4 linked regions of the Homo sapiens genome follow. The protein of the gene in region 2 interacts with the protein of the main gene of each other region in a biochemical or structural test. Each region holds a gene or a part of one and is shown on either strand. Other genes may lie near its edges. The genes, in order: TNS3, ERBB3, RNF41 and SH2D1A.

Region 1 (7,011 bases), on a different chromosome or scaffold from region 2:
TCCCGGGTTCACGCCATTCTCTTGCCTCAGCCTCCCGAGTAGCTGGGACTACAGGCTCCTGCCACCACGCCTGGCTAATTTTTTTTTTGTTTTGTATTTTTTAGTAGAGACAGGGTTTTACCGTGTTAGCCAGGATGGTCTCGATCTCCTGACCTCGTGATCTGCCCGCCTCGGCCTCCCAAATTGCTGGGATTACAGGCGTGAGCCACTGCACCTGGCCTAGAAGAAATTTATTATAGGAATTGGCTCACACAATTATGGCTCACACAACTATGTCTGCAAACTGAAGACCCAGGAAAGTTGGTGGTGTAATTGCCAGTCTGAGTCCAAAGGCCTGAAAACCAGGAGCACTGATATTTGAGGGCAAGAGAAAATGAATGTTCCAGCTCAAGAAGGAAGAGGAAGAACTCACCCTTTTTCTGCCTTTTTGTTCTACTTGGGCCCTTGAAGGACTGGATGGTGCCCACCCACACTGGTGAGGATGGATTTGCTTTACTCAGTCTACCCATTCAAACGCTAAGCTCTTCCAGAAACACGCTACCCACACACCCAGAAATCACATTTTACCAGCTATCTGGGCAACCCTTAGCCCAATCAAGTTGACATCTGACATGAGCCATCACAAACACCAAGGTTATGTAAATTCCGAAAAGGTTCTGAGACACGGAAAAGCTCAGGTGCCTCTAGCCAGGCCTGGCAACTGTAAAGCCCACTTTGTTGAGCTGTAGGTGAGGATTCGTGTGTTTGGGAAGAGAAAAAGGAAGAGAGGAAAGGGCCAGGTGTTCTAGTAAGAGTCTCAAGGGACTTAGTATCTTTTTTTTTTTTTTTTTGAGACAGAGTCTTGCTCTGTCACCCAGACTGCAGTGCAGTGGTGCGATCTCAGCTCACTGCAACCTCCGCCTCCTGGGTTCAAGCGATTCTCCTGTCTCAGCCTCCTGAGTAGCTGAAACTACAGGTGCGTGCCACCACTCCCAGCTAATTTTTGTATTTTTAGTAGAGACGGGGTTTCACCATATTGGCCAGGATGGTCTCGATCTCTTGACCTTGTGATCTGCCCTCCTCGGCCTCCCAAAGTGCTGGGATTATAGGTGTGAGCCACTGCGCCCGGCCGAGACTCAGTATCTTAAGGCAAAACACAGGCATTTGCTCATGTTCCAACTCCACAGTTCTCTGAATGCGCTGTAGAGCTTTGTAACTCCATCCTGTGTAATGTTTCCTGCTGTCTCTTTCAGTTGGTCTTTGGGAAATATTTTCAGTGACAGAAAGTAAGAAATAAGGAAAAATATCCAAGTCCTTGCTCATATACCTCCCTTGATCTAGGGATACAAATTCAGATTTTTGCGGTGGCAAAGACAATCTTCATTGCAATGACAAGCTTCCAACACATCTTCTAAAACTCCTACAGGGGAGGAGCAAGAATGAGTCTGCAAAGAAGGGCTCAGGGAGGAAGGAGATTGGCGGGAGTTTCTTGCCCAGACTCCCCTGCCCTCTGCTTGGCATACTAGGAGGGAGAGGCCACTCTTGGCATATTGCTGCTTTTTTTTTTTTTCAGCTAAATGTTGGAGACTTTTGTTTTCAAAGTTGAGTTTTTTTTGGATGGCTAAGGATGGAAAAAATGCACATTCCCTTTTTCAGATACTGGTTCATGCCCTGTTTTTGTTTAATTTCTTGGAAACTTGAAGTTGCAGCCTGCGAAGTGGGGAGGCCCTGGGCTGGGGAAGCGAAGCTCTGGAAGGGGCCCAGGTCCCGATTGGGGATCCAGAGAGGCTTCCCTTCATGTGCCTCTAGACGAGGTGTGGGGAACCCGGGGAACAGCCATCCCAGCCAACACAGAGTGCGTGGGGATACTGGAGCCCGGTTTTTCTTCTCCTTTCTTGGGACACTGCCAGGGAATATAACCACAGACACTGCACGAATGAGCACCCAAGTCACAGTTTTTCTAGAAACAAAGGTGTGGTTGGGGCATCCCATTCCATTGCTACCCCAACAAGGGCAGTGTGGCCGGTGGGGCCATCTGGCTTGGGTGTGGGTAGCAGTTTGGAGAGATTTTAGAAGAGGCTCCCTGACAAAGGGTCAGAGAACCCCAGCACTGCACTGAGTTTTCCTGACTGTGAGCTCTCAGACAAACAACAGTGTCACCTCCTGTAAATGGGTGCCCTAACACTGCAAGAAGCTCAAATTCATGTTGTCATTCAGCCAACATGGTTTTTGGCATTATGATGGTTTCTGTGATGCACAGAATAGCACGTAATTGGCTCTGGGTGTGAAGATCACCACGGTCTTAATGGAAGAGAGGGTTGAGCAAAGTGATGATTTAGTCCAATTGCACAGAGTGGATGGTGTGGGCAGGCAGCTGGGAAGAAGTTAAGAGTAGCCTCAAGGCCAGATAGTCCTGATCCCTCCCACTTTCTTCGCCTGACCAGGTGGGTGACCTTGAACAAGTTGCCTAGAATGTCAGATCCTGTTTCCTTATCAGGACAAAGGAGATCGTAACAGTACCAGCCTCACCCCCATTCCTAACCCAGCTGGCTGTGACCTCCTCCCCACCTTCCCCTATGGCATCTTCCCTGGCACCCCTTGACTCATCTCATTGACTCTTGACCTGGTGTCTCCTAGAGTGTAGGAAAAATGCCTGCCTCATCTCTAGGGGCTGGGGCATGGTGCTCATGAAGCCTTTGCCTGGGAATAAATACCCAGATCAGTCTGGGGATGAGAAATGACACTACCTTCCAGAGCACAGCAGGGGTTGTTCAAGTCTTCCAGAAAAGCAGCTCTTGTTTCTCCTCATGTGGTGGGAGTGGAGTCAGAGCGTGGCTCAGGCCCCACATTCTCAGCTGTTTGGATCTGGGGACTCGAAGTTTCTGGTGGTTACTTCTGAAAGTCTTTTCCAGGATAATTATTCTTGCTCGGTTTCTCTGCCATCTCTGACAGGCTGTTTTCCCTGCTTCCCCCGCTGCCCTGAAGGGGCCAGAGGAACAGGGCAGGACCCCAGGGCTGCGGATGGGTTAGGCAGCTCTGTTCCCGAATCCAAAGCAGTTCTTGGTGACTGTCCTCCAAGACTTGCCCTGGACCCTGCTCCGGGTGGGATTCTGAGACCGCCTGCTCCACGTGGCAGATGAAATCTAGGTCTCTTCTGTGAGAGGCTGGCGGGGAGGATGTTTTCCTGGAAAGGACCACAGGACAAACCGCTGATGAAATTTCTCTTGTGACCTCCCTGGAGGAAGAGCACTTCTGATTTCTGCAAACTTTTTCCATTCCCCCGATCTCACAAATGGGGAAACTGAGGCTAAGCGACTGAGTTCAGGGCCATCTGAATCTCAGGGATGGACAGTCAGGATGGACAACCTATAGGCCTTTCCTCCTCTGAGAATCTCTCTGCTCGGGATCGTTTTTCTGGTTTCCCCTGGCTTGCCTAAATTCTGCTCATTTGTCCCGGCGCATTTTAAGAAGTCATGTGACTTCTAAAGACTTCCCTGACCTCCTCCCTTCATTAGCTGGGTATTTCAGGGGCTTCTACGGCACCCTAGGCTTTCCGGAGCGGCTGTGCTCCTTTATGTATGCGCGACTCCCACTAGGCTATGAGCTACAGGAGGGAGGGTAGGTCTTGCTCCCGGAGAGCACCTTAATCACAGGCGCTGAATGAAAGAATGAACTGGTTGTGCAGGAACCAGGATCCGAACCCGCCTCCCCAGGTACTCTAACACCGGCCCGGCGGAACCTGCAAGCCTCCAGACCACTTGGAGCCTGGGCTGCTCAATGGGTCTGATAATTCCAGGTCCTCTCTGCGGCCAGCGAAGGGAGGTCCCAGGGCGCACCTCGGCAGGGCGGGGGACCCCGGTGAAGGGCGCCTGGAGGCGCGCTGCATTGTTAGGGTGATGAGGCCAGGTGACCCGCCAGGCTCGGGGCGCGGGCGCGGGGGCCGGCCGTGGCGATTGCCCGCGCCGCCTCGAGGGGGCCCTGCCGCGGGCGCCGGCAGCCAGCCAGGAGGACGGGCCCGCCCGCGCGCTACTCGGAGCCCAGCCTCGTTGCGGCCATCGCCCTGCCGGACCGCGCCTCAGGCTCCCCCAGGTACTGGGGCCGGGGAAGGAGGAAACGCGGCCACGCGCCGCGGTCCTCTTTGTTTCGGGCCCGGCGCGGGCTTTCGCGCTCCGGGCGCAGGAACGAGGCTTGGGGAGCACAGAGATCTGGAGCTGGGGCGCGGGGACTGAGTTCGGGGAGCGCGGAGACAGAGTTCGGGGAGCGCGGGGTACGGGAGCTCAGGGCGCGGGGATGGGGTCACGGGAGAACCCAGGTTAGGGAGCGCGGGGACCCGGTTGGGGGCGCACGGGCAAGGGGTTTGGTGCGCGCGGGTACGGGGTTTGCGGCGCGTGGGGGGCGGGGGCTCGGCAGGAGTCCCAGGACAGGGGCTGGGGCGCGGGCCAGCTTCGCCGGAGTCCGGGGACGGGGGCGCTGACTGGCTGGGTTTGGGGACTGGCTGGGGCGCAGGACCACTCGAGTGGGACCCGTGGCGCCCGGGCGCCCTGGACTGAGGGCAGAGACCGGAGCAGCTATGTCGCAGTCGCTGTCGGGACCGAGCGGACTTTGCTCCCTAGGACTCCGTCTCGAGACTCCAGGTGGAGAGCGCAGCTAGGGGCTTCAATGGGCAGGCTCAAGACCCTTCTCCTACTTTTTCTAGGCAAGCTCTCCAGTGCGTCTCTTTCCCTTTCCCTTTGGTGGGTGGGAGGCAGGGGGTCTTTACGCGCTTCCTTTTTTTCCCTGAAGGACGGGACCTCGGGGTGGGGGGATATTCTGGGGTGGGGGGTGCTGTCCCAGGCTGGGGGCCAGCTGTGTGGCATGTGCCTCCTGGCACGCGGGAGCTGTCGCTGACAAGCAGGAGGAGGGAGGGTCCCGGACGGCCCAGGGGTCTCTGTGTCGGTGCTGTGCAGCGGCCTGACATGTGAGTCCCGGGTCCTTTGCTTGGAGTGATTTGAGTGTCTGTGGCGGGAAGAGATTCAGGCGTTCCTCAGGCATTCTCCAGACAGTGTCAGCAGATGACCCGAACTCCAGCGTGGTTGAAAAACTCAAAGCGCCATCAGGGTGTGGGGCCAGCAGAGAGCACTACTGAGGGTGGTCACAACCCCCTGGGAAGCCCCCAGGCTTCCTTGGGGCGCATTCACACACTTTGATCTTCCGGGTTGGCTTTCCCCCCATTTTTTTCACTATTTGAATGCATGATCATGGAGGACTCTGAAAATATACTGAAAAGTATGAATGCAGAACTCATTGTATTAATATTGCATGGCCCTTCTGAACTAACCAACCCTTTGACATTTTAGATTTTCTTGAGGCTTTGGTCTGTGCATATTAATTTTTTAAATTGCTTTCATGCTTTCCCTTTTGAATGAGGTTTACTTGTTCTGGTGATTCTGGTTCTTCTCTCTTTGGGGCCTGTGAGGTTATATTTGCAAATCAATCAACAAGTATTAAGAAAGGCTTTTCTGTGCTGAGGCCTTGAGGGCCAGGGAGGGGGTGGGGAGTCGCTGCAGCTGGAGGGTGGAGGGGCAAGGCCATTACACAGAGATGGAGGTGCACTGGGTCCTGGTGGGGGTGTGGTAGCACAGGGGGTGGGGGGTGTGTACACAGGGAATTGACAGGAGGAACTGGCAGCAAGCCCGACTCCTGACCTTAGGAATAGTAATGGTGACCCCGAAGACAAAGTAACAGGCATACCGATTGAGTGTTTGCCTGTGCTAAATGCTTTGCATGCATTCATTTCATTTCACCCAAATTACATTCCTTGGAGGGAGTTGGGATTATGATTACCCCATTTTACAGACGAGTAAACTGAGGCAAAGGAAGGCTAAGTAACTTGGCCGAGATGAAATGAAACATGGTGGTAGTGCAGCCTGGGATTCTGGGACAGGACTCTAGGGTCCCAGACCCCTGTTCCTGGCTGCTGCTGCGCGTCTGTCGACTGAATTCTAATGCATGTCCAGACAGCGATTCCTCAGCTGAGGCTGCCATAGCTATCAGCAGCTCAGCTGAATTATGTCTTTAAAAAACTACCAAGATAGAAAAACTAGTAGCCCCAGGGCACTACTTATTCCTGAATGCAAATTGATTTTTTTTTTTTTAACAAAGTGTCTCTTTGGCACCTAATGTTTTGAAAGTGAGCTGTTTGCAAATGTGACTCTGGAAATAAAGGGCAGGAGAGGGGGTGTCAAAGTATGCTCTTCCACTGCAGGAGGTGTTGCTGAAGGGGATAGCAGAGACCTGAGGAGGAGGCAGTATGGCAAGAACAGTGAGTGGAAGGGCTGACCTACCATTTGGCAGTCGCAGCTTATATCTGCTTAGGACTCTACACAAGGACCCATTTTACAGATGAGTAAAATACCAAGTAAATTCTTAAAGTCTGGGAACAGTTAGGGATCTGAATGAGCCCAGTTCTCTGACTCTATGTGCCCCATTCCTTTCTTAAGATCAGCCTGTTGTAAACCACCCCTGTTCAGGGGAAGCCTCTTGTTCCCTCCCTGTGTCCCTGTGTATGAACTTGAGAGGGGGAGGAACTTTCCACCTTCCTGAGGGCAGAAAGCATTGTTTAGATCCCTGCCACTTACTAGGAAGCCAGAGACATTTGCTGAGTGCCTCAGCAGCACGCTTAGAATTGAGGCTTCGAGGCTTCCTCACAGCGGCCCCCATAGATTTCCCAGGGAGGGGCCTCCTGTCTTGCGGGTTGATCTGGTGGGTTTGCCCCATGCAGCAGGAGCTATCATGGGAAGGGTGGGTCTGGGCGTCTGAAGCTCTCCAGGAGGTCAGCTGACCCTGGGACCCCGGGTCCTTCCTGTAGGACCCCAGAAATCACTGGGGAATCAGCTAACCCCTGCAAGCTGTGCCTGGAATGACCTAGAGCCAGTCCTGTCTACCTAGAATCCTCTGCTGCTATCCTTGTTGATCTAGAATGAGGGATGCTGGTTAGTTGGTTAATTAAGTAGGTGGTTGATTAACTTAGTTACTCTCTTCCTCACAGCAAGA
Region 2 (7,062 bases):
TGTCTCACATGATCCAGCAGAGAACCCAGAGGCAAATATTGAGTGACAAGCTGCAGAGATGACCCTGGGCATAGTCCCAGCAGCCTTACAATGTGGGCATGGTCCAGGCTGCCAATGGCCAGCATATGCTAAGAGACACAAAAGGTATTATCTAGGAAACCAACAGGTTCACATACACTCAGCATGTGCACAGCCAGCCCAGGCCCCCCCACCCCCAACATTCTGGCTAACATAGTAGCTGCTGAGAAGCACAGGACCCTGCTTCTACATGATTGTATCTAATATTGTCCTCTCTCCTAGCGGCATACAGAATTTCCTTCACTTACATCTGTCACAGCTTGAAAACTCTGCCGTCCACTCTTGTCCTCAATGACTTTAATGCAGACTGGAATCTTGATTGATTCACCCTCAGGGATCCACACTCCCTGGGAAGTTTGGGGCAGGAGTTGGCATAAGGTCATTCTCCCTAGGTCAATCCTATGCAAAAATCTTTCACCCCTTTGCCCTAGATGCCTTCCCCACCTCTCCAGAATTCCTATGGGTCACTCACTTTGTGCACAGTTCCAAAGACACCCGAGCCAAGCACTTTAAGCTTCCTTAGCTCTGTCTCTTTGAAGATTCTGGCCAAGACTTTGTTAGCCTTCTCACTGGGGTCCAGAGGCTCTATGCTCTGAGGAGCAAATGGGAAGGAGTTACTCAGGAAAGGCCATTCCCATGTCCCACTCCAACCCGCTCCTCATAGGTGAATGCCAAAAGCAGCACAGCTGAAAGGGCAGGAAGAGGAAGCACCGTTAGTCCTGGAATGGATTATAGGCATATTGAGGTACAGACCCTGAGAACTGAGGAAGTTATTTGTGCTCATGAGATCAGGAATCAAAGGGGTTGGGTTTTCCCTTTGATGGAGGAGCACAAAGTGGGGAAGGGGACAGCTAGGGAGAGTTGGTAGTACTATTACCACCTTGAGTACCTTTTATACAGTGCTCTGTGCTTTCCAAAGCACTTTCACATACATCATCCCCCTTTACCCTTACAGCCATCCTGGAAGGACAAATGTTATTTCCTCTGTATAGATGCATAAACCGAGGCACAGAGAAGATAAGTAACTTCTTCAAAGTCATGTGGCAAATTAATGGCAAAATCAGGACTAGAATGCATGCCTCCCATTTCTCTGACCAGTGTTCTTCTAGGGGACCACACTACTTCCTTGAAGAAAGGGATCAAATCTCTGGGGAAAGAGGAGGGGAGTGACATTTATCCCATCACTGACCCCTGGGTGCACAGGGTACCACTCAAAATTAAGCTATAAAGAGACTTCCAGGACATGCAAAAAAAGAAAAGAAAAAACAAAAGTAAGCTAAGTACTCACCTCACCCCGTTCCAAGTATCGCCTCATAGCCCTTTTATTCTGAATCCGGCGCCCACGCCAGTAGAGAAAAGTGCCGCCCAGCATCATGAAAATCACTACCAATCCTGCTATCACTGTCAAAGCCATTGTCAGATGGGTTTTGCTATGGGATATATAGAAACCCAACATTATCCTGGGTTTGCATCTTCCTTACAAATGTCAACTATACTTGTGTTGAAGGTATGATGCTGACCTGGGGCAAGAAATTAACATTCACATATATATCCTTAAGCACTGAAGGGACCAACCTAAATCTGGACCAGTCTTAGACTACTGAAAGTTAATTTTAGGAAGGGAAGTCCAGAAGCCTGCATTCTTGAGTCCCAAGTGTCCAGTGATAGTGGACTGCATACATAAAAGGCCAGAATGAAGACAGCCTCCCTCTTCTCTCCAGGTAACCACCTCTCTCCCAACTCCCAAATATCCCCAGTTTCCAGAATCTCCAACCCCATCATACCCGATCAGCACCAGTGTTTGTCCTAAACAGTCTTGAAGCTCTGGTCCTTTACACCTAGGGAAGAAAGTCACCACCTTAAATGAGAGCTTGGACAGCAGAGGCTCAATTTCAACAGCCTAACATATAAAAGCTTGTTTCAGAACTTACCGTGGCATCCCATCCTGGAGCCCAGAGCTGATCCCAAGACATGGCCTCCACCTCCAGCTCACTAGCTCTCCCCAAGCCCCTCTTCTGTGAAACTCCCTTGAACTGAGGTTATTCCAGGTTCCCAAAACTGTGGTGTAATTTTGTGCTGTTACTGATTTTCCCTTTCTCCAATCCTTCGCTACACAGCTGGGAGTGATTCTTTTTTTTTTTTTGAGACAGAGTTTCACTCTTGTTGCCCAGGCTGGAGTACAATGATGCAATCTCAGCTCACCGCAACCTCTGCCTCCTGGGTTCAAGAAATTCTCCTGCCTCAGCCTCCCGCGTAGCTGGGATTACAGGCATGCGCCACCACGCCGGGCTAATTTTAAATTTTTGGTAGAGACAGGGTTTCTCCATATTGGTCAGGCTGGTCTCGAACTCCCGACCTCAGGTGATCCACCCACCTCGGCCTCCCACAGTGCTGGGATTACAGGTGTGAGCCACTGCGCCCGGCCAGCTGGGAGTGATTCTTGAATCACAGCCTCTCTCTTCTTTCTGCTTCCCTCACTCTAGTTCTGTGCTCCTACCCTTCCACCTGACCCCCTCTCCTTATTATCCCATCACTGACCCCTGGGTGCAGTTCTCATGGCAGGGCCGACATTCATTCTGAACATCTGGGTACTTGTAGATTGGGCCCTTGGCACCTAGGACTCCATGGGGGCAGCTGCTCACACAGTGGGGCCCATCTCGAAAATGGGCACATTGAGCACAAGTATCAGAGCCCTGAGTGGAAGAGAGAAGGTCAGGAAGAATCAGATCCCAAGGTCAATTCCATACCTCCCAGCAAAGACCAACCCAGACATTCAGGATCTTCTATCTGCAGGCCCTAGCATTATCTGGCCTCTCTGTGCTATCCTTAGCCATATCATTCCCCAGATGCTCCAAGTATTGCCCCTTCTCTGTCTCCCTTGGAGATCCTGGTGCTACTAGTATACCGAGCCATTGCATGTGGCAGTGCCCTCCATGGGTTGGCATTCCGGGTGGCAGGAGAAGCATTCGGCCTCATGGGCAAATTCTCGAGGCTCCCTGTAGTGGGGAATAAAGGGAGGGGGGGGTCACTTCCAAGTCCTGACCTTCATGCTCCGATCTCACAACCACAGGTCTCCTACCTCAATCCCACCAAGGCACATGCAGAAAGCTGTCTAAAGACTTTTATTGTATGCCACCTGAACAGTTCCATTGCAGGGCCCCACCCCCACCCATCCTTGACTGGCTCCCCTTACTGTACCCATTCAGAAAGTTGCAGTGGGTCACACAGACACCTCCTCGGCTATAATTTCGACAGGACAAGCACTGACCAGGGCCTGGGCCCCAGCATCCCCCAGAGGAGCACAGTGGGTCACACACTTTGCCCTCTGCCACTGGAAAGGAAGGGGTGGGTTAGGAGAGGAGTCTGAGGACTCCCAGCAAGCCCTCTCTTCATTATTCTTCCTCGTTACTGCTTCCAGCCTAACAGCCCCCTTCTCCTTGGTTCCATCCCTCAACCCTACTCCCACGTCTAGGGCAGAATAGTCCTTTCAGCCCTCTCCTCCCTGACTCCCTATTCTCACCACCTAGCAGACCCTTTCCCTCACCGCAGTCTCTGCGCGGCCGATTATGCTTGATGTCTAGTCGCTCTTCCGTAGGCCCCCGAAGCACCTTGGTCCAGTTCAAAGAGTGGTGGTAGCAGAGCTGCCTATTGGCACTTATATAGATACGCCCAGCACTAATTTCCTTCAGGGATCGGAAGCCCAGAGATGTGACATTCAAGTTCTTCATGATCAACAATGAGAAGCCCCGGCTGAGAATAAGGAGACAGGATGAGAGGAGAGACTACTAAGGGAACATTAACTATTCAAAGGATTCATGTTAGTCAAGAAATTTGCTCAGTGCTAGTCAGATCCACTGAGAGGGAATCCCCCTCCTTTTGCCTTTTCCTCGTGAAACTCTGAAACCCTTTGGTTTTGAGGCACTGCTGTATGAGACAGTGCCTTGTATTTTACTAAAGAATGCCTATGACACAGGCTTCATTGCCTGAAGATGCCATTTCCTCCATACCCTTTACTCACTTGTAGAGGCTTCTGCCTCCAATGGTTGTCAAATTGGAAAAAACACTGAAGTTGTGCATGTGGGGCGGCCAGGACTGGATGTTCAGGTAACCTGAGGGGTTGGAGAGAGGCATATGGGCAGGGAGCCTTCTTCTTTCTTGGGTTCTCCTGGCTCCTCCCCTATAACTTGGGACGTGATTTTCTCAAGTAGTTATACCGCAATTTATGCCAGTGGTTCACCTATTCTTCTAGAAAGGGCAAACTCTCTGCCACTCACCTGTGATCTCCCGTACTGTCCGGAAGACATTGAGCTTCTCTGGGTCCAGGGCAGGGATCTTGTGCCAGGGGTCTCTGAATAGAACAGTAGAAACCAGTCAATAAGGTAAAGGTATAACTCAATGGCAATGAGCACACCCAGCCTCAGCATTTGGTTTCTAAATATCATTCTCCACTAAAAGGAAACATTCCTTGGAGAAATGGCTGGGATGGGGGAAATATAATATAAGCCCAGAGCATCTTGTGCAAACAAGACAAGACTCAAAGAATTAAGGGTACAGCCCAAAGAACACAGGAGCCAACTTGGAGGGGCTGGCTAAAATAAATAATGATTGTAAAGGATTATAACCATTGACTAGAATAAAATAAGTATCCATAAGAGTAAATAGGAAAGGAAGACCTTTTTTTTTTTTTTTTTTTTTTTTTTTTTTTGAGACAGAGTCTTGCTCTATCGCCCAGGCTGGAGTACAGTGGCAGCAATCTCAGCTCACTGCAACCTCCACCTCCTGGGTTCAAGTGATTCTCCTGCCTCAGCTTCCTAAGTAGCTGGGAATACAGGAGCACACCACCATGCCTGGCTAATTTTTTGTATTTTTAGTAGAGACAGGGTTTCACCATGCTGGCCAGGCTGGTCTTGAACTCCTGACCTTGTGATCCGCCCGCCTCGGCCTCCCAAAGTGCTGGAATTACAGGCATGAGCCACTGCACCTGGCCTTTTTTTTTTTTTTTTTTTAAGAGACAGGGTCTCACTCTGTTGTGCAGAGTGAGTGCACTGGCTGGAGAGCAGTAGTGCCATCATAGCTCACTGTAACCTTGAACTCCTGGGCCCAAGCAATTTTCCCACTGGCTCCCAAAGGGCTGAGATTACAGGCATAAGCCACTGTGCTCAGCTGGAAAGACTCTTCCTAACAGTAGAATGCCAACAAACAAATGCAGAAGGAATAATGGAATTAGAAAATTATCATTTGGCAACTATCATAACAATAATTGATTCAGGCAATTATCCCAAGACATTCATTAATTGTGAATGGAAAAATAGTAACTTTACAGTAGAAAAACCTGACAGATATCACCTTAACTAAGTGACCAGAGACATCATTGTGAGTGCTGGGACAAATCAACATCACGTACATCCTCAATAGGATGCCCTGAGCTCACAGCCTCTGTGGTGTTCTTATCAAACTCCAGCCTGGCAGCGGCGCATGCCTATAATCCCAGCACTTTGGGAGGCTGAGACAGGAGGATCACTTGAGCTCATGAGTTCGAGACCATCCTGGACAACATGGTGCAACCCTGTCTCTATAGAGAATGGCTTGAACCTGAGAGGTGGAGGTTGCGTGAGCTGAGATCACGCCACTGCACTCCAGCCTGGGCAACAAGAGCGAGACTCCGTCTCAAAAAAAAAAAAAAATATATATATATATACACACACATATATAAATATATAAATAGTATATAATATTTATGTTTATATATATTTATATATATTATTTATATATATATATTTATATTTATATATATTATTTATATATATATATATATATATATATATATAAAATTAGCCAAGCATGGTGGCATGCACCTGTAATCCCAGCTACTCAGGGGGCTGAGGTGCTCGCTTGAGCACGGGAGGCAGAGGTTGCAGTGAGCTGAGATCATGCCACTGTATTCCAGCCTGGGCAATAGAGCCAGACCTTGTCTCAAAAAAAAACTACAAAAACTTGAATCTAATCATGAGGACACATCAAACTAATCCAAACTGAAGAACATGCTGCCCATTACCTAATCTATACTCATCAAGAATATCATGAAAGATAAACAAAACCTGAGGAGCTGTTATAAAGGAGATTGAAGTGCCACGATAACTGAATGTAATGTATGATCCCAAACCTTAGGAGGACAATTAGTGAAATCTGAATAAGGTCTGTAGCTTAGATAATATTTTGTGTTAATGTTAATTTTCCGATTCAAACAACTATGCTGTGGTTATGTAAGAAAATATTATTTTTAAGGAATATACGCTGAAATATAACAGGGGTAAGAAAGAACCATGTGTGAAAATTTACCCTCACGTGGTCCAGAAAAACAATAGCATGTGTTTTGTGTGTGTGTGTGTGTGTGTAGAGAGAGACAGAGAGAGAGAGAAGTGATAAAGCGTATGTGGTATTTTTTTTGGCGGGGGACAGAGTCTCGCTCTTTCACCAGGCTGGAGTGCAGTGCCGCGATCTCGGCTCACTGCAACCTCTGCCTGCCAGGTTCAAGCTATTCTCCTGCCTCAGCCTCCTGAGTAACTGGGACTACAGGCGCACACCACCACGCCCAGCTAATTTTTGTATTTTTAGTAGAGATGAGGTTTCACCATGTTGGCCAGGATGGTCTCAATCTCTTGACCTCGTGATCCACACCTAGTGATCCACCTGCCTCAGCCTCCCAAAGTGCTGGGATTATAGGCATGAGCCACTGTGCCCGGCCATATGTGGTATGTTAACATTTGGAGGATCTGGGTAAAAGAGTGTATGGGGGGCCAGACGCGGTGGCTCACACTTGTAATCCCAACACTTTGGGAAGCTGGGGCGGGTGGATCACTTGAGGTCAGGAGTTCGAGACCAGCCTGGCCTACATGGTGAAACCCTGTCTCTACTAAAAATACAAAAATTAGCCGGGCATGATGGCACACACCTATAATTCCAGCTACTCAGGAGACTGAGGCA
Region 3 (7,972 bases), 130 kb from region 2:
GCTGAGCTAATTTTTGTATTTTTAGTAGAGACGGGGTTTCACCATGTTGGCCAGGATGGTCTCAATCTCCTGACCTTGTGATCCGCCCGCCTCGGCCTCCCAAAGTGCTGGGATTATAGGCGTGAGCCACCATGCTTGGCCTATTTTTCTTTTTTTTTTTGAGATGGAGTCTTCCTCTGTCGCTCAGGATGGAGTGCAGTGATGCAATCTCCTCAGCTCACTCCAACCTCCACTTCCCAGGTTCAAACAATTCTCCTGCCTCAGCCTCCTGAGTAGCTGGGATCACAGGCATGTGTCACCATGCCAGGCTAATTTTTATTTTATTTATTTATTTATTTATTTTTTTTTTGAGACGGAGTCTGGCTCTGTCACCCAGGCTGGAGTGCAGTGATGCGATCTCGGCTCACTACAAGTTCCGCCTCCCAGGTTCACACCATTCTCCTGCCCCAGCCTCCCAAGTAGCTGGGACTACAGGCGCCCGCCAGGACGCCCAGCTAATTTTTTTTTTTTATTTTTAGTAGAGACAGGGTTTCACCACGTTAGCCAGGATGATCTTGATCTCCTGACCTCGTGATCTGCCTGCCTCGGCCTCCCAAAGTGCTGGGATTACAGGCGTGAGCCACCGCGCCCAGCCAATTTTTATATTTTAGTAGAGACAGGGTTTCAACATGTTGGCCAGGCTGGTCTCAAACTGGCCTCATATGATCCACCACCTTTGGCCTCCCAAAGTGCTGGGATTACAGGCGTGAGCCACTGCGCCCGGCGTAATATAAGGTGTATATATGTGTGTGTGTGTATATATGTGTATATACACGCGCGCACCCCTTATACATACTGTCTGCAAATCAAATGAAATAATAAATACGAAAGGAGGCTGGACGCAGTGGCTCACACCCGTAATCCCAGCACTTTGGGAGGCCGAAGTGAGTGGATCACCTGAGTCCAAGAGTTTGAGACCAGCCTGGGCAACATAGTGAAACCTTGTCTCTACAAAAAATACAAAAATTAGCCGGGCATGATGGCGTGAGTGCCTGTAGTCCCGGCTACTGAGGAGGCTGAAGGGGGAAGGTCAACTGAGCCGAGGAGGCAGAGGTTGCAGTGAGCAGAGATCGCAGCACCGCACTCCGGCCTGGGTGACAGAGTGAGACCCTGTCTCAAAAATAAATAAATAAATAAATAAATAAATAAATAAATAAATATGAAAGGATACTGAATACTGTTATCCTCAAGTAAGATTATTTGTAGCAACAGAATACAAAATAAGGCTGGGTGCAGTGGCTCATGCCTGTAATCCTAGCACTTTGGGAAGCCGAGATGGACCAATCACCTGAGGTCAGGGTTTTGTTTTGTTTTTTTTGGCGGGGGGTGTGGGGAGACAGAGTCTCACTCTGTTGCCCAGGTTGGAGTTCAGTGGTGGAATCTCAGCTCACTGCAACCTCTGCCTCCTGGGTTCAAGCAATTCTCCTGCCTCAGCTTCCCAAGTAGCTGGGACTACAGGTGCATGCAGCCATGCCCCGGCTAATTTTTTATATTTTTAGTAGAGACGGGGTTTCACTGTGTTGCCCAGGCTGGTCTCGAACTTTTGAGCTCAGGCAATCCGCCCGCCTCGTCCTCCCAAAGTGCTAGGATTACAGGCGTGAGCCACCGCGCCCGGCTACAGTCAGAGGTTTGAGACCAGCCTGGCCAACATGGTGAAACCCCATCTCAACTAAAAATACAAAAAATTAGCCAGGCATGGTGGCAGGTACCTGTAATCCCAGCTATTCAAGAGGCTGAGGCAGGAGAATCGCTTGAACCCAGAAAGAGGTGGCACTGAGCCGAGATTGTGCCACTGCACTCCAGCGTGGGTGACAGAGTGAGACTCCGTTTCAAAAAAAAAAAAAAACAAGAATGCAAAATAAATTTAGAGTACTGAGAGTCGGAGAGGAAATGCTTGACAAAAGCTTGTTCCTTCTTTTTACTAGAAGGCAGGGCTAGCCACAGGTCGGTCGGCTTAACATTGCATCACTCACATTCCCTACCACTAGTCCACTACATTCTTATTTGGGGCAAAACTATCAGCCAACAACACTATCAGTCTCTTGCCCTATTGTCAGACTCTAAAACCCCTGTATAGAAAGGGATAACACTATCACGGGCCAGTCCCCAAGAACAGTGGCCTCAATAACAGCCCCACTTGCTATTAAATGAAATGAAGTTTCTGAACGGGGAAGCAGTCTGTCAATCCCTCAAGCAAAACGCCTTCACCCCTCCTGGCTTTCTGCTCTTCCTCTAGCCCCCTCCTCCCCACTACCCAATTTCCCAAAGTCCTGAGTTAGGGAAGGCCTTCCAGTGTGTGGTGTGTGAACCCTGCCAGAGAGCCAGGCTGCAAACCAAGCGCAGGGATGTGAAGAATGTGAGATTCCTTCATGGAGGGCTGGGAGGGGGTGAGGAGCGGGGAAGGAATGAGAGGACAAGGCTGCCAACGACAAGGCATGGGAGAGGAGCCAAGCTATGGCGCTTCGAGGGCGGGGGTTTAGGTTCCACCGCCCCTGCCCAGGCTGGCCCCCGGAATGCTCCCTTCCTCCCCTTCTGGCCCGTCAATCATTGCCCATTTAAACACCACGCTGTTCCCCCAGTTCTGCAGGTGCCGGTCCTCCAGCTAGCCCCGGCCCCCTCCCGCACTTCTCAAAGCTCCCCTATTCCAATGGACCTTCCCCAACAACCCGTTCTCCAGAGCCCCCTTCTCACCTCCCGACTCCTCGCCAGTGCTGCTCCCTTCTCACATTTTTATCTCTACCACCATCCCTCCTCCTGAACCCCAGTTATTTCAACCCCCCGCCCCAATACCCCTGGGACATCACCTCCTCCCCTCCCACACCCTCTTTTAGGTGGAAGATCGCGCAGGCGCAGTACGCACCGCCCTGGAAGCGGCCTGGAGTCTCCGCAACCTGACCCAGTCGGAGCTGAGGCCGCAGCGGCCACAGTACTGCCCTGGTGCCGGGTCCCAGCCTCTCCCGGGAAGGGAAGGGAAAGGGGAAGGAGGGGAAAGAAGACTCCTACCACTCGTCGCCGCCTCAGACGGATCCTTTGCCCCGCCCACCGCTGCTACGCAACCCGGCGGAAGCTCGTCACCAAACCCCGCCTCTTTGTTTAACTCAGCCCCTACACCAGCAGCCAGGAGCTGCCTACGAGGAGGGACGAAGGCTGGCCAGGCCTCCACTCTAGACAGGAAGTCTAGTCTAGAGTCTATATGGTCCCAGCCAGGACTATGTAGCCATTTAGGAGGGAGAACTCTATGTTCTTCCCGGCAAAAACGTGTGGGCCTGGCCGGCCACGCTTCGCTTTGGAGGGGTGCAGGTGACTTGTGTCTTAGAGCTGACGCAGATTGTTGCGAGATCATTGCGGAGAGGCAGGCCTGCAGCGTGACCTGCTGCGGGTCCGGCCCCTCTCCCTTTTCCAGAGCCCTGGTCAGCATCCCAGAGCTTCGTAACCCCTTGACTCCTGTCATGGGAATGGATATTGCAGTTAACAAGGCGGCCGCGGGGTGGGGAGTGAGGGAGTCTGACCGCAAAGCTTAGATCTGGGGTGCTCAACGGGTTGTCTGCCTCTCTCCCAGGCGCTCTCCTGCCGTATCCACGATGGCTCCCCGAACACTTGTGGAGTTCCCTGAAACACCTAAGAGGAAGGAAGGGAGAAAAAATTTCCCTCTTCCTGAGTTGGGGTTTGATTTCCTTAGCTTACAACACCGTGGTGTTGGGGATGTGGGCGGTAGAGAACGTGGGATCCAAGGGAAGTCAATGTGGAGCCTAAAGAGCTCCGTGAGCAGATAAGGGATTAATTAAGCAAACCAAGGCATTACAATCACATGACTTCCTAGACTAATCTGGTATTAAATAGTATGGTATTTATTGTGGACATTGGCTAAGCAAATGCTAATGCACATTAATACACACATACACACATATCTTTATGTAATTTGTTTATACACAACAATACAGAGCTAGCTACCTTTTGTGGACAATTTGACAGGTCCCAAAAGGAACTAAAGTTTCAGGCCTCCTTTCTGCTGTCTTCTAGCGGGACTCTGAGATAAGTAAGATAAGAGTAGTATGGCCGGGCGCGGTGGTTCATGCCTTTAATCCCAACACTTTGGGAGACCGAGGCTGGTGGATCACGAGGTCAGGAGTTTGAGCCCAGGCTGGCCAACGTGGTGAAACCCCGTCTCTACTAAAAATACAAAAAAAGTAGCCGGGCGTGGTGGCGGGCGCCTGTAATCCCAGCTACTCGGGAGGCTGAGACAGGAGAATCGCTTGAACCCGGGAGGCAGAGGTTGCATTGCAGTGAGCCGAGATCGCGCCACTGCACTCCAACCTGGGCGACAGAGCAAGACTCCTTTGCCGGGGTGGAGCGGTGGGGCGGGGCGGGGAAGAGTAGTATGGCCAGGTGCAGCGGCTCACGCCTGTAATCCTAGCACTTTGGGAGGACGAGGTGGGCGGATCCCTTGAGGTCATGAGTCCGAGACCAGCCTGGGAAACATGGCGAAACTGTCTCTACAAAAAAAATACAGAAATTAGCCGAGGGTGGTAGTGCGAACCTGTAGTACCAGCTACTACGGAGGCTGTGGTGGGAGGTTGCAGTAAGCCAAGATTGCACCACTACACTCCAGCCTGGGTTACACAGCGAGACCCTGTTTCAAAAAAAAAAAAAAAAGGGACTAACAATGTTTCTCTCTTTGTCGCAGGTTCCATTTCTTCCAAGAAGGGTGAGCCTGCCTTTTGTCTCTGGTGTAAATGCCACTTTTCCCAGAGACCTTGACCAAGCTGGGTAGTGCATTAAAGATGAGAACCCCAAATCAGGAACAAAGATAACGGTTAGAGCAATAAAAAGGGAGGAAACCGTGTGTGCCTACTGTGTGCAAGGCACTTTTTTAAATATAACTTCCGTTTTCTCGTAAGATGGAATTACATATTTTTTGTCTTTTTTTCCCTTTTTGTGGAGAATGGGGTCTCGTTATATTGCCCAGGCAGGTCTGGAACTCCTGGACTCATGCTATCCTCCAGCCTATGCCTCCCTACGTGCTGGGATTACAGGCGTGAGCCACCGCGCCTTGCGGAATTGGAATTACATATGTTTAAATAGTCGAGAAATGAAGTGAAGCATTGAGCCAGGATTCAAACTTTTGTCCGCCAGATTCCGAAGCCCTTGCTCCTTTTCCCATTGTGTCACTCTTTGGAAAGAAACGTCTTAGAACCTAAGTGCATTCTCCCTAGCCAAGTTAAGGAAAACTGGGGGCCCTGTGCGCCTTCTAGTGGTGGATTTTTCCCCCTACAGAGCCAACTATCTCCAAGGTTCCTTTAATACCTGAAATTCGCCCCCTTCGCGGCGCACGAGTCTCTGATCCCGATTGGCTGGGCAGGGCAGGCGGCGGGACGCAGGGCGCGCCCGGGCGGTGCTGATTGGCCGGAGGAGGCCAGCCGGGGGAAACTTCCGGGAATGTCCGCACTCCCGCGTTCCACGGGGCAGCATCCGGCGGCAGCGGAGCCTGTGGCTCCCCCTGCGGGCTGCTCAGCGGCGTGCACAGTCCTGCCGGCTGGCTTGGGTGGGTGGTGGGCTGCGGGTAGGGGAGGGGATGGACCGAGTCCCGGCTTGTCGGGATGAGGGTTCCGGAAGATCTGGCCAGTAAGATTCTACTCCCTGGCTGTGCACCGGGTTCCCTACCCCTGTCTACGTCGGCTCCGCCACTTCGCGGCTTGAGACTAAAAGAGCATCCCGGCAGGGGGCCTTCCAGCCCCAAAGCAGCCTGTCCAGAGACCCCCAAATTCTGATCCTGAAGTTGGAGGCCTCCGGGGATGTTCTTTTTTAATCTTTTAGAAGGGTTAGAGGGGTTGAGGCTGCCTGACCCCAGCCTAATGGGGTAGGTAGGCCTTGGGAAGTGGAGCATGGGGGCAAAGGATCCAAGCATTGAGCCTTCATCCTCTATTCCCCATCCAGTGGGGTGCCGAGGCTCAGGCAGCATGACGACGGAGACCTTTGTGAAGGATATCAAGCCTGGGCTCAAGAATCTGAACCTTATCTTCATTGTGCTGGAGACAGGTGTCTATACTGGGGTGGCGGGTTCGCGGGATGGGGGTCGGGGGCAGGAGGGGAAGAACGCTGTCTGCGTTCTTAACTTGCTATGGGGATGGCAAGGCAAGCTGCAAGACACTCCTCACTCCCAATCTCTTCGACCCTGGGACAGAAAGTTGCAGTCAGGTATAGGGTAGATAGAACTCTTGCCAGATCTAGACCTCCTGTGCGACGCGGGCCTCTTTCCACTCAGGGCCCTCTCCATGGTGCTGGCCCCTGAACTCCCACCTCCACCCTCCACCACCCCTTCCACAATCCCAACCCTTTATGCCCCAGGGATTTGGGCTTTCCCCTGTTTGTACACCTTTTCCCTCATTCCACCAATATCCACATCTCATCCTTCTGAGAGATACCACTCCATTTATTTGACCATCCTCCCACCTCGATTTATCTGTTCCGTTCAGGCCGAGTGACCAAGACAAAGGACGGGCATGAGGTTCGGACCTGCAAAGTGGCGGACAAAACAGGCAGCATCAATATCTCTGTCTGGGACGATGTTGGCAATCTGATCCAGCCTGGGGACATTATCCGGCTCACCAAAGGGTAAGTCAGCTGGTGACTTCTGGCCTTCCAAAGGCAACAACAATCAAGAGTGGGGTTAACAGTCCCTATAACACTTCTGAGTACTGAATTTTGCTTTTTTTGCCTCCCATAGGTACGCTTCAGTTTTCAAAGGTTGTCTGACACTATATACTGGCCGTGGGGGTGATCTGCAGAAGATTGGAGAGTAAGTGCTGTCTTGGGGATTGGGATGAAGAAGCACCAGGGCAAAGGGGTTTGCAAGGAGGCAGCATAGGGTGTGCAGTCCAAGCCTCATTTCTGGACTTTTTCTGTTTGTTTGTTTGTTTGTTTTGAGAAACAGTCTCTGTCGCTCAGGCTGGAGTACAGTGGCATGATCTGGGCTCACTGTAGCCTTGACCTCCCGGGGTCAGGTGATCCTCCCACATCAGCCTCCCAAGTAGCTGAGACTACAGGCGTGCTTCACCACACCCAGCTAATTTTTTTGTATTTTTTATAGGGATGGGGTTTCGCCATGTTGCCCAGGCTGGTCCCAAACTCCTGGGCTGAAGTGATCCTCCCGCTTCTGCCTCCCAAAGTGCTAGGATTACAGGTGTGAGTGACCACACCGAACCTATCTGGACTTTTCTGAGGCCTCCAGCAGTGGCCCAGAGGATGAATTCAAGGCTTTAGCTACTTTCTTCCCTTGCAGATTCTGTATGGTTTATTCTGAGGTTCCTAACTTCAGTGAGCCAAACCCAGAGTACAGCACCCAGCAGGCACCCAACAAGGCGGTGAGTCCTGTGGCCACAATGGTGGGAAAGGAGGGCAGATCAAGACAAGAAGCATGGGAGGGAGCAGGATCTGAATATGTAATCTGTGCCTTCAGGTGCAGAACGACAGCAACCCTTCAGCTTCCCAGCCTACCACTGGACCCTCTGCTGCCTCTCCAGGTAAATCTGTTCCCTTCTATCCACTGGTCCTCCTAGCTCTCCCACTCTCCTCAGCCTAGAAAGATGCATTTCCCTCATTCCTTTTCCAAATCTCTCTTTTCTCAGTGTATCCTCCTTCACCCAATTCTCCCAGACCCCTTTTTTTTTTTTTTTTTTTTTTTTTGAGACGAAGTCTCGCTCTTGTCAACCAGGCTGGAGTGCAATGGCGTGATCTCGGCTCACTGCAACCTCCGCCTCCCAGGTTCAAGTGATTCTCCTGCCTCAGCCTCCCAAGTAACTAGGATTACAGGCACCTGCCACCATGCCCGGCTAATTTTTTTTTTTTTGAGATGGAGTCTCTGTCACCCAGGCTGGAGTGCAATGGTGTGACCTCGGCTCACTTCAACCTCTGCCTCCTGGGTTCAAGTGATTCT
Region 4 (7,211 bases), on a different chromosome or scaffold from region 2:
TCAATTAAATCTTCTTGGTTAATAGGAGTAAACAAAAGATAGAATGAGAAACCATTCTGAGTAAACCCTACAATCAATGCATGTTTGTCAGCTATACCTTGTTGTCCATGTGTATATGATACCACTTATATTGTTATTTCGACTGCATATCATAAGTGTTCTGGTTTAAAATGAGTACGTGGTTTATTTCTAAATAAAATCTGATTTTATAATTACAGTGTAGCACCAAAAAGAGGGAATGAAATTTTTACATTTATCAAAAGGGACACTCAACTCAAAAACATTGAGAAACTGATAAAAGGCAATGTATCCTCATATCTTCCCTCTGCAGCACATTCTGGCTATCACCCTAACAGTCACATAAGACTTTGAGGCCCCAGTGTACCATTTGAAAGACACCGTAAGGGAACTCCCAATTTGTCTAGTATTTTCCGCTACTTCACAAGGAGGTTTTCATGGAGAACTAAGAGTCATAAAAACTGCATTTATGCAAGATTCACTTTGGGCGAAAACTTAAATGCTTGATAATTTCTCACCTGCCTAAGTTAATTCCTCATGTGGTTCCGGCCTACATAGGCAAAAGTCTAAAGCTGCCCTTCTCTCTTGCATAAGGTACTTAAGGCAATCTTTTGCAGAAGGTAGGATACACATTACTATTCCTGTTTTATAAATATGGAAACTGAGTCCCAGAGAATTTGAGTGACTTTCCCAGAGTCCATACCCTAACCTCTCAATGGCCATTCCGTTTATTGCAGTAAAGAACAGAATTTGCCTTGACAGTTTGTTAATTCAAAAATATCTGCTGAGTGCCTATTATGTGTTCCTGTGTTTCTGGTGATGGAGACAGTATCTCCGCCCTCATGGAGATTATATTTTTGCAGGACAGCCCAGCAATAAGTAGGTAAACAAGCAAATTATCAGATAGTTTAAAGCTCTTTGAAGAAAAATAAAGAGATGGAGTGAGTGTATCAGGGACAGGGAGAGGGCACTTGTTCTAGATAGGTGGTCAAGCAAGTCCTCTCTGAGGGAGGAGACAGTTGAACAAACATGTGAACTGAAGGTATTTTGGGCAGAAGGAACAATAAGCGCAGAAATCCTAAGTGGGGGCATTTTTGAGGAGCTTGAGAAACGGCCAGGAGCCCCGTGAGGCTGAAGCCTTAGGTATATCTTGCCTCTCACTATACCCTGTTGTCCCTCCCCTGCCCAGACTTGTTTTGTACATTCTTTTTCACCTTTGGGTTAAGGAGCATGTTATCTCCTTTGTCAGCTTCCCTAAAGCAGCGCCTTTCACCCACCCACTCACTCCACCTTCTTTCAATGAGAAAAGAGCCTAAGAATCCTAGCTGGTTTTCATTGCCCTTCCCTAGGTTCCACACGGGAACAATAATTATATAAGCAAAACATAAAGATTCAAGCCCAAGACATTCAATAGCTTCCACGTATTTCCCTTGAAGCCTTTGTGAAAAATGTATTTAGCATGACCTGAGAGCTGCCACAAACAAGGCTTGACCGTTTTTAAAAAACAATATACAGTGAAAAATCTTCTAGCACCAGCATCAGGATAATCTTTCTTCACTGACCCATAAGGTATTTCAAACTCTTGTGGGGTATTATCAGATGCTGAACTTACTACCAAGCATTTAACCTCATTTGGTTTCTGTCTAGAACCTACAATGCAGGGCTGCTGTTTTCATGGATTTTTTTTTTTATCCTGCTGACAATAATGCCTGAGCTAGGTCCTTCCTTAGAAATGCCCCCATGATTCCTAAAAGAAATCAACTGAAAAGAGAAGATAAAATAATAATATATCTTTGGTATAATAATAATACCAATAGCTTACATTTATTGAACATTTACTAGGTGTCAGGCCCCAGTGCTAATTTTTTTACTGCATTATGGCACTTAATCTTACAATCCTATGAGGTAGGCAGTAATATGATACCTATTCAATGGATAAGAAAACTGGGGAACTGAGAGGTTAATTTGCCCAAGTCACAAACCTAACATCTGACGAGCACAGGACAAAGTCTCAGATCTGCCTGACTCCGGAGCCCTGGAGCAAAGACGCAGATGAATTTGATTCAAAATGAAGCCTTAGAATGAGACATGCCTAGGCAAATGGCAAAGCTGAATCATAACAAGGGTGTTTTCCCTCCATTCCCTTTAAGACTATTGTGAGTCCTAACGTTTATCAAGAAGGGTCCTATTTCTGAAATCCCCTGCCCCTCCCCACCCCCCACTACTTTTCTAAAGGATGCTACATCAGCAGATCCAGAGAGGTGATTTTACTGACACACATCCCCCTCCTCTCTCAGCATCTCGACCTAACTGGCATTGCATTCTTAAAGTAATTGACTCTGTTTCTTAATGTGCCTCCTCTCTCTGAATGTCATGCTCTTCCTTTGGGATGACACTTCAAAAGTCGTTTAAAGAGAGCTAGAGTAAGGCTCGCAGGGCGCCACCCGATAGGGGTCAAAATGGAAGTGGGGAGCCTGGGTCTTTCCCGGAGCGAAGGTAAACTGTGGACCACATTTCACCACCCGAAATGGCATTCTCTGCAGCTGCCCCAAAAGGCTCTGGTGAGGGCCTTCTGGAGAGCAGGAGGCCCAGGGAATGAAATCCCCAGCGAGGGATTGAGGCGAAAGTGTGTTCCACCACGGCCCTGGGCTGGACTTGAGGGTGGGCCACGGAGGAGGCGTCGGCGAGCTGCTAACGCCGGCGCCCCTGCCTGCCTCGGCCTCCACCCTGGCCCCAGCTGCTGTTGCCCACCGCCCACACCCTCAGCAGGCCCATGTCCACCGTATCATACTCACAGCACACATAGGCAGTACACGCCTGGCACGCTCTCGCTGTCCCTCAGCAAATAGCTGCCATCCAGCCCAGTGGCAAGCAGGAGCTTCTCGCCGGTTTCCCTGCTGATTTTGCCATGATACACAGCCACTGCGTCCATGGCCTGGTGGACTCTTGGGCAGGCCGAGGAGGAGAACTGTGCAAGGGAGATGCCGCTGCTACTGCAGCCAGGCACAAGTCAACCACCTGACTCCCAGTTCAGCCAGATGTGCAAAAAAGAGAGAAGCACCCCAACAACAGGATGTTGTCTACTTGCCTTAAACCTCCTTCTCACACTTCAGTTAAAACGAGCTCAGCAATTTAGTAGCTTGGTTCGATCGAGCTTGCCAAGGGCTTCCATCTTCTGCCCCCCAACACAGGGTTCATACAGAGAGGGGAGGAACATTGGAAGAAGGATTTTGCAAGATTGGGGCTGTACTGCCAACACACACCCTTGCACTCAGACGGGGATGCTTAGTAATGCTTCTGTTCTTGCGGTTTACTCAGAGGCCACCAGGAATAACTTAGCTCAACTAGCCCATAAGGAGTTGATGATAGAGGCAAGTTGTACATGTCTCTGTTGGTATGTGGACCCACTACGTAGGGCAAAAACACACTGACAAAATGAAAGGACCAAGAGCTCTGAGAACAAAACACTGATAGTTTTATCAGTACTGTCAGTATGCAATCATTACTGAACATGGCCATGAAGACTCCTACAGAATCAGACATAGTAGATGAACAGTGAACTCTGGGCAAGTTCTTCTTCTCCCTCTTCCTTCTACCTCACGCAGTCATCTTGAGAAGTCTTGATCCTGAGCAAATATTGATTTCTTTCCTAACACCTTGTCCAAGGTCCCAAAGTGCTAGTTGAGATACAAAAGTCACAATGTACATCCAAAGATGTTCCAGATGTATCTATTTGATGGGCTTTAGATGAGACTGTGAATCATTTAACTGGTGCTTTGCCTTTATGTGGATTTGTATGTGCCCTTTGGTGTACAGGGCCCACCTTTCAGCATTTTGTCCATAAAATCTGTTTTGAATCATTTGCAAGTTGTTGATAATTTTGTTGTAACTTTTATTCTCTGTTGTTTCTAGAAAATGTTATTTCTTCGATTGAGGCTAAACTGTCTTTAATATTTTAAAACCTTTCAACCTTCATTTTCTTCTCTGAAATAAAACATTGCTTCTATTTCAAAATGTGCTAGGTAATATTTCCGCAAAGCTTCCTGCATTTTCACTAGAGTAAGACTTTATTTATTGCTGAAGCTGAATGGTCTTGTACATGTACCTTTAGATTATGTAAAGTACTTTTAAAATTTGAATTTAAATAACTGAAGCTATGTCGTCTATTATATGCTTTCTGCAACTTCAGTGTGTAGTTCTTTGAGAATATGGCAAGGCTGGGAACTCAATAGCGAGAACGACACTTAATTCCTCACATGTCTTACCAATGGATTGGATGTACAGAGCTGACTTGCACCAAAGGCAGATATTTGCTCTTCATCTACTAGGATTAAGAACAATCCTCTAAGATTTCAGTGGTAGCTGGTAGCAACTTTTCTTCTTGATTGAAGAGTGTCCAGCCTTAGTATGCAAAGTATAAACATAAGTCTCCTACTAGTCATTTTCAGCATTAAGAATTTTTTTTTAAAGCATTCAAGGTGACATTTGGGGATGGCTCTGGGGAATGGGACCAATATTATTTTATCATCTTCCTTCCTCACATGTTTTTGACCAACTCCACCTCTTACCCCTTTTCATGCTTTGGATCAAGGAAGAAATTAATCTGATATATGAATGCATACTCCAACATTAAGGATTTGAAAGGTTGTCCACCTTGGGCTCTCCATATATTGAGCAGGCAAATGGTTAGCCCAGAGGAATTAATCAAAATGGTGGAATTTCAAATAGAAAGGAGACAGGGAAAGGGATCCCTTTATATCAGTCCATATGAGCAACAGCTGACCTGTGAGGTGAACTGTGAGAACATTCAGTGTCACATAAGTGAAAACAAAACCTAACCTTTTTTTGTCTCTTAACAACTCTGAACAAATCATCCATAAACTTAGGAACAGAGCAACCTGGATCTGACAGCACAAGCGTACCATGCACTCTTTTTTTCTTTCTCTGTTTTGTTCCATGTTGCTAAAATAGCACACCTGTCAAAGCAGCCAGGTATGACGGGGTTCAGCACAACTAAAATTGCACTAAAAAACAGATAAATTATAAGGTAATAGTACAACTTTCACATCCAGTACCTCATTGTCATCTTACAAGCAAGCTGACAGCTGAGCCAGCCGAGCCAGCCCACTAGTGCAGTGTTGATGAAAAATACTGACATCTTCACTCTAATCCTACACCAGTACTAAACCTGACTTTAGCAAATTCAAAACTTCACACTGAGCTTGAAGCGTAGAGAAAAGAGGAATTGAAATGACTCTCTTCCTTCTCTCCCCATACACACGAGAGGAAATGGGAGAAAATGAAAGAGGAGAGCAATGGAGATAGTAGAGGCACCAACAGAGAAAGAGTTAGGAAGAATGGACCCCAAGTACAAGTATAAACCACTTAGGAGCAGAATTATTTAATTAATGGTTTATCGTCTGTGTCCCCCACTAGAATGTAAGGTCCATGATGGAGGGATTTTGTGTACTTTGCTCACCACTGTATCCTGTGTCTGGCAAGTAGTAGGTGCTATATATATTTGTTGTGTGAATGAATGAATGAATGAACTTAATGCTCTCAATAAAAGAAAAAATACTGAAATTCTCTTTTACACTCACGCACACACACACACACACACACACAATATTGGTTCTACATGCCTATGGTCGTCTTTGAAATGACAAGATGAATTGGAAGGAGCAGTAGTCCAGTAAGTAGGAGAGTTGAAATATATGCCATGTTTTGCCACTAAATCACTTCTCTCTGAGTCTCATTTTCTCCATCTGTCAAATGGAATTGAACCAGATGACCCCTAAGGTCACGTCTAGGTTTAACATTCTATTCTCTAAACAAAAGCCAAATGTGTTTTAGAGAGAAACAGAGGGGAAATGAATTGAACTTATTTGTGCACAAGAACAAAGACCTGTTTCCTCAATCTCCCTCAATAAAGGAAATATTTTCATTCTTGACATTTTACAATAACTTAAGGGGGAAAATCATAGAATGGAGGAAGAGAGCTTCACAGTTACAACCTTTTAGAATATAGATGCCATTTAAATCAGATTATAAAAGCATTGAAATTTTAGAAAAACTGCCAGCCAAGGTTGAAAGTATCTTCTTAACCAAACTTGTCAACTCCTGAGGTCTCTGAGAGGTGACAGAATTTTGCATGTGGAAGCCCTGTCTGAGGTGCTAATTGTCTTCATTTCAAATGCCCTAGGCTATTCTCAAACCCAGGTAGATTAAAAGAATGATGCCAAGGGTGGTCAGTTTTATAGAGTGGCTCTGACATTTCAAAATCTTTTTCTCTGACCTTTCAAAACTAACTTTGTTCTTCCACTAGCTCATTTATAGGTGTGAATTCTCCTGTGACAGTGTTATGACAGTGTTACCTGTGGTGAGTTTACACATTCTCTCAGCACTTACTAAAATTCACTTCCTTTACAAAAATGATTAAAGAAAAAAATTGTTTTTTTTACAAAAGAGCACCTCCTTTTGATAATCTCTGGGTTTACCTATGAGGCCAATCTTTCTAAATGCCCTTTTTAAGTGAGAAGCCAGAGACAGGGTTGTTGTGTGTGTTTATTTAAGCCTGTCTTAAATATTTTTATTATTTCAACCAACACTTATGAGCATCTACCATATGCCAGACATTATAGTAGGTACTTAGGTTACAGAAAAGTACAGTATCTGCCCCTAAGTAGCTCATAGGTCCAGTGAAGAAGACAGACAAGCAAACAGACAATTATAATTCACTTAACAAGAGCTGAGATAGAGGAAAGGATGGGGCTCTAGGGACATAGTAGTGGCATATCTAACTCAACTTATATTCTAACTCGCACAATCTATTCGAGATGGAAAGTGTTTTTATCTTTCTGTCTGCTGTGTACAGGTTTTTTTTTTTTTATTGCACGAATTTTGCCTCCTTCGTGACTCAAAGGAAGTTCCCTCATTCTAGCTGAAACTCTGCATGCTTCTGAGGTTTCATTCTCGGAATAATAGCAACAGCTAATATTTGTTAACTGCATACTATATTCCAGGCATCCTGCTAAGCACTTTGAATGTATTATCTCATTTATTTATATCAACAACCCTGTGAAGCAAATACTATTATTAGTCTCATTTTACCGACAAAGAAACTGAAACCCAGAGAACCTAGGTAGCCTATTCAAGGTGGCACAACTGGTCAATGTCAGGCCCAGGATATGAAC

Evidence for each region.
Region 1: the proteins of ERBB3 (region 2) and TNS3 form a complex in vitro, tested with the Homo sapiens proteins (2 studies listed by BioGRID and IntAct, with this or other methods).
Region 3: the proteins of ERBB3 (region 2) and RNF41 form a complex in vitro, tested with the Homo sapiens proteins (2 studies listed by BioGRID).
Region 4: the proteins of ERBB3 (region 2) and SH2D1A form a complex in vitro, tested with the Homo sapiens proteins (2 studies listed by BioGRID and IntAct, with this or other methods).

What each region holds. Positions count from the first base shown.
Region 1 is NC_000007.14:47,579,108-47,586,118, reverse strand, and holds the start of TNS3 (tensin-3), read left to right. Parts: upstream 1-4,007; 5' UTR 4,008-4,068; exon of another isoform or gene 4,069-4,246; intron 4,247-4,420; exon of another isoform or gene 4,421-4,613; intron 4,614-6,223; exon of another isoform or gene 6,224-6,268; coding exon of another isoform or gene 6,269-6,280; intron 6,281-7,011. UniProt on the Homo sapiens protein: May act as a protein phosphatase and/or a lipid phosphatase. Involved in the dissociation of the integrin-tensin-actin complex. EGF activates TNS4 and down-regulates TNS3 which results in capping the tail of ITGB1.
Region 2 is NC_000012.12:56,090,111-56,097,172, reverse strand, and holds part of ERBB3 (receptor tyrosine-protein kinase erbB-3 isoform 1 precursor), read right to left. Parts: intron 4,427-7,062; coding exon 4,353-4,426; intron 4,188-4,352; coding exon 4,097-4,187; intron 3,829-4,096; coding exon 3,623-3,828; intron 3,410-3,622; coding exon 3,277-3,409; intron 3,075-3,276; coding exon 2,984-3,074; intron 2,772-2,983; coding exon 2,617-2,771; intron 1,917-2,616; coding exon 1,863-1,916; intron 1,509-1,862; coding exon 1,367-1,508; intron 671-1,366; coding exon 551-670; intron 426-550; coding exon 327-425; intron 129-326; coding exon 1-128. UniProt on the Homo sapiens protein: Tyrosine-protein kinase that plays an essential role as cell surface receptor for neuregulins.
Region 3 is NC_000012.12:56,218,861-56,226,832, forward strand, and holds the start of RNF41 (E3 ubiquitin-protein ligase NRDP1), read right to left. Parts: upstream 3,063-7,972; 5' UTR 2,900-3,062; intron 2,842-2,899; exon of another isoform or gene 2,731-2,841; intron 1-2,730. Other genes in the region: NABP2 (SOSS complex subunit B1), read left to right, coding at 5,922-6,075, 6,513-6,651, 6,764-6,835, 7,319-7,400, 7,496-7,559. UniProt on the Homo sapiens protein: Acts as E3 ubiquitin-protein ligase and regulates the degradation of target proteins. Polyubiquitinates MYD88. Negatively regulates MYD88-dependent production of pro-inflammatory cytokines.
Region 4 is NC_000023.11:124,342,382-124,349,592, reverse strand, and holds the start of SH2D1A (SH2 domain-containing protein 1A), read right to left. Parts: upstream 3,031-7,211; 5' UTR 2,951-3,030; coding exon 2,814-2,950; intron 1-2,813.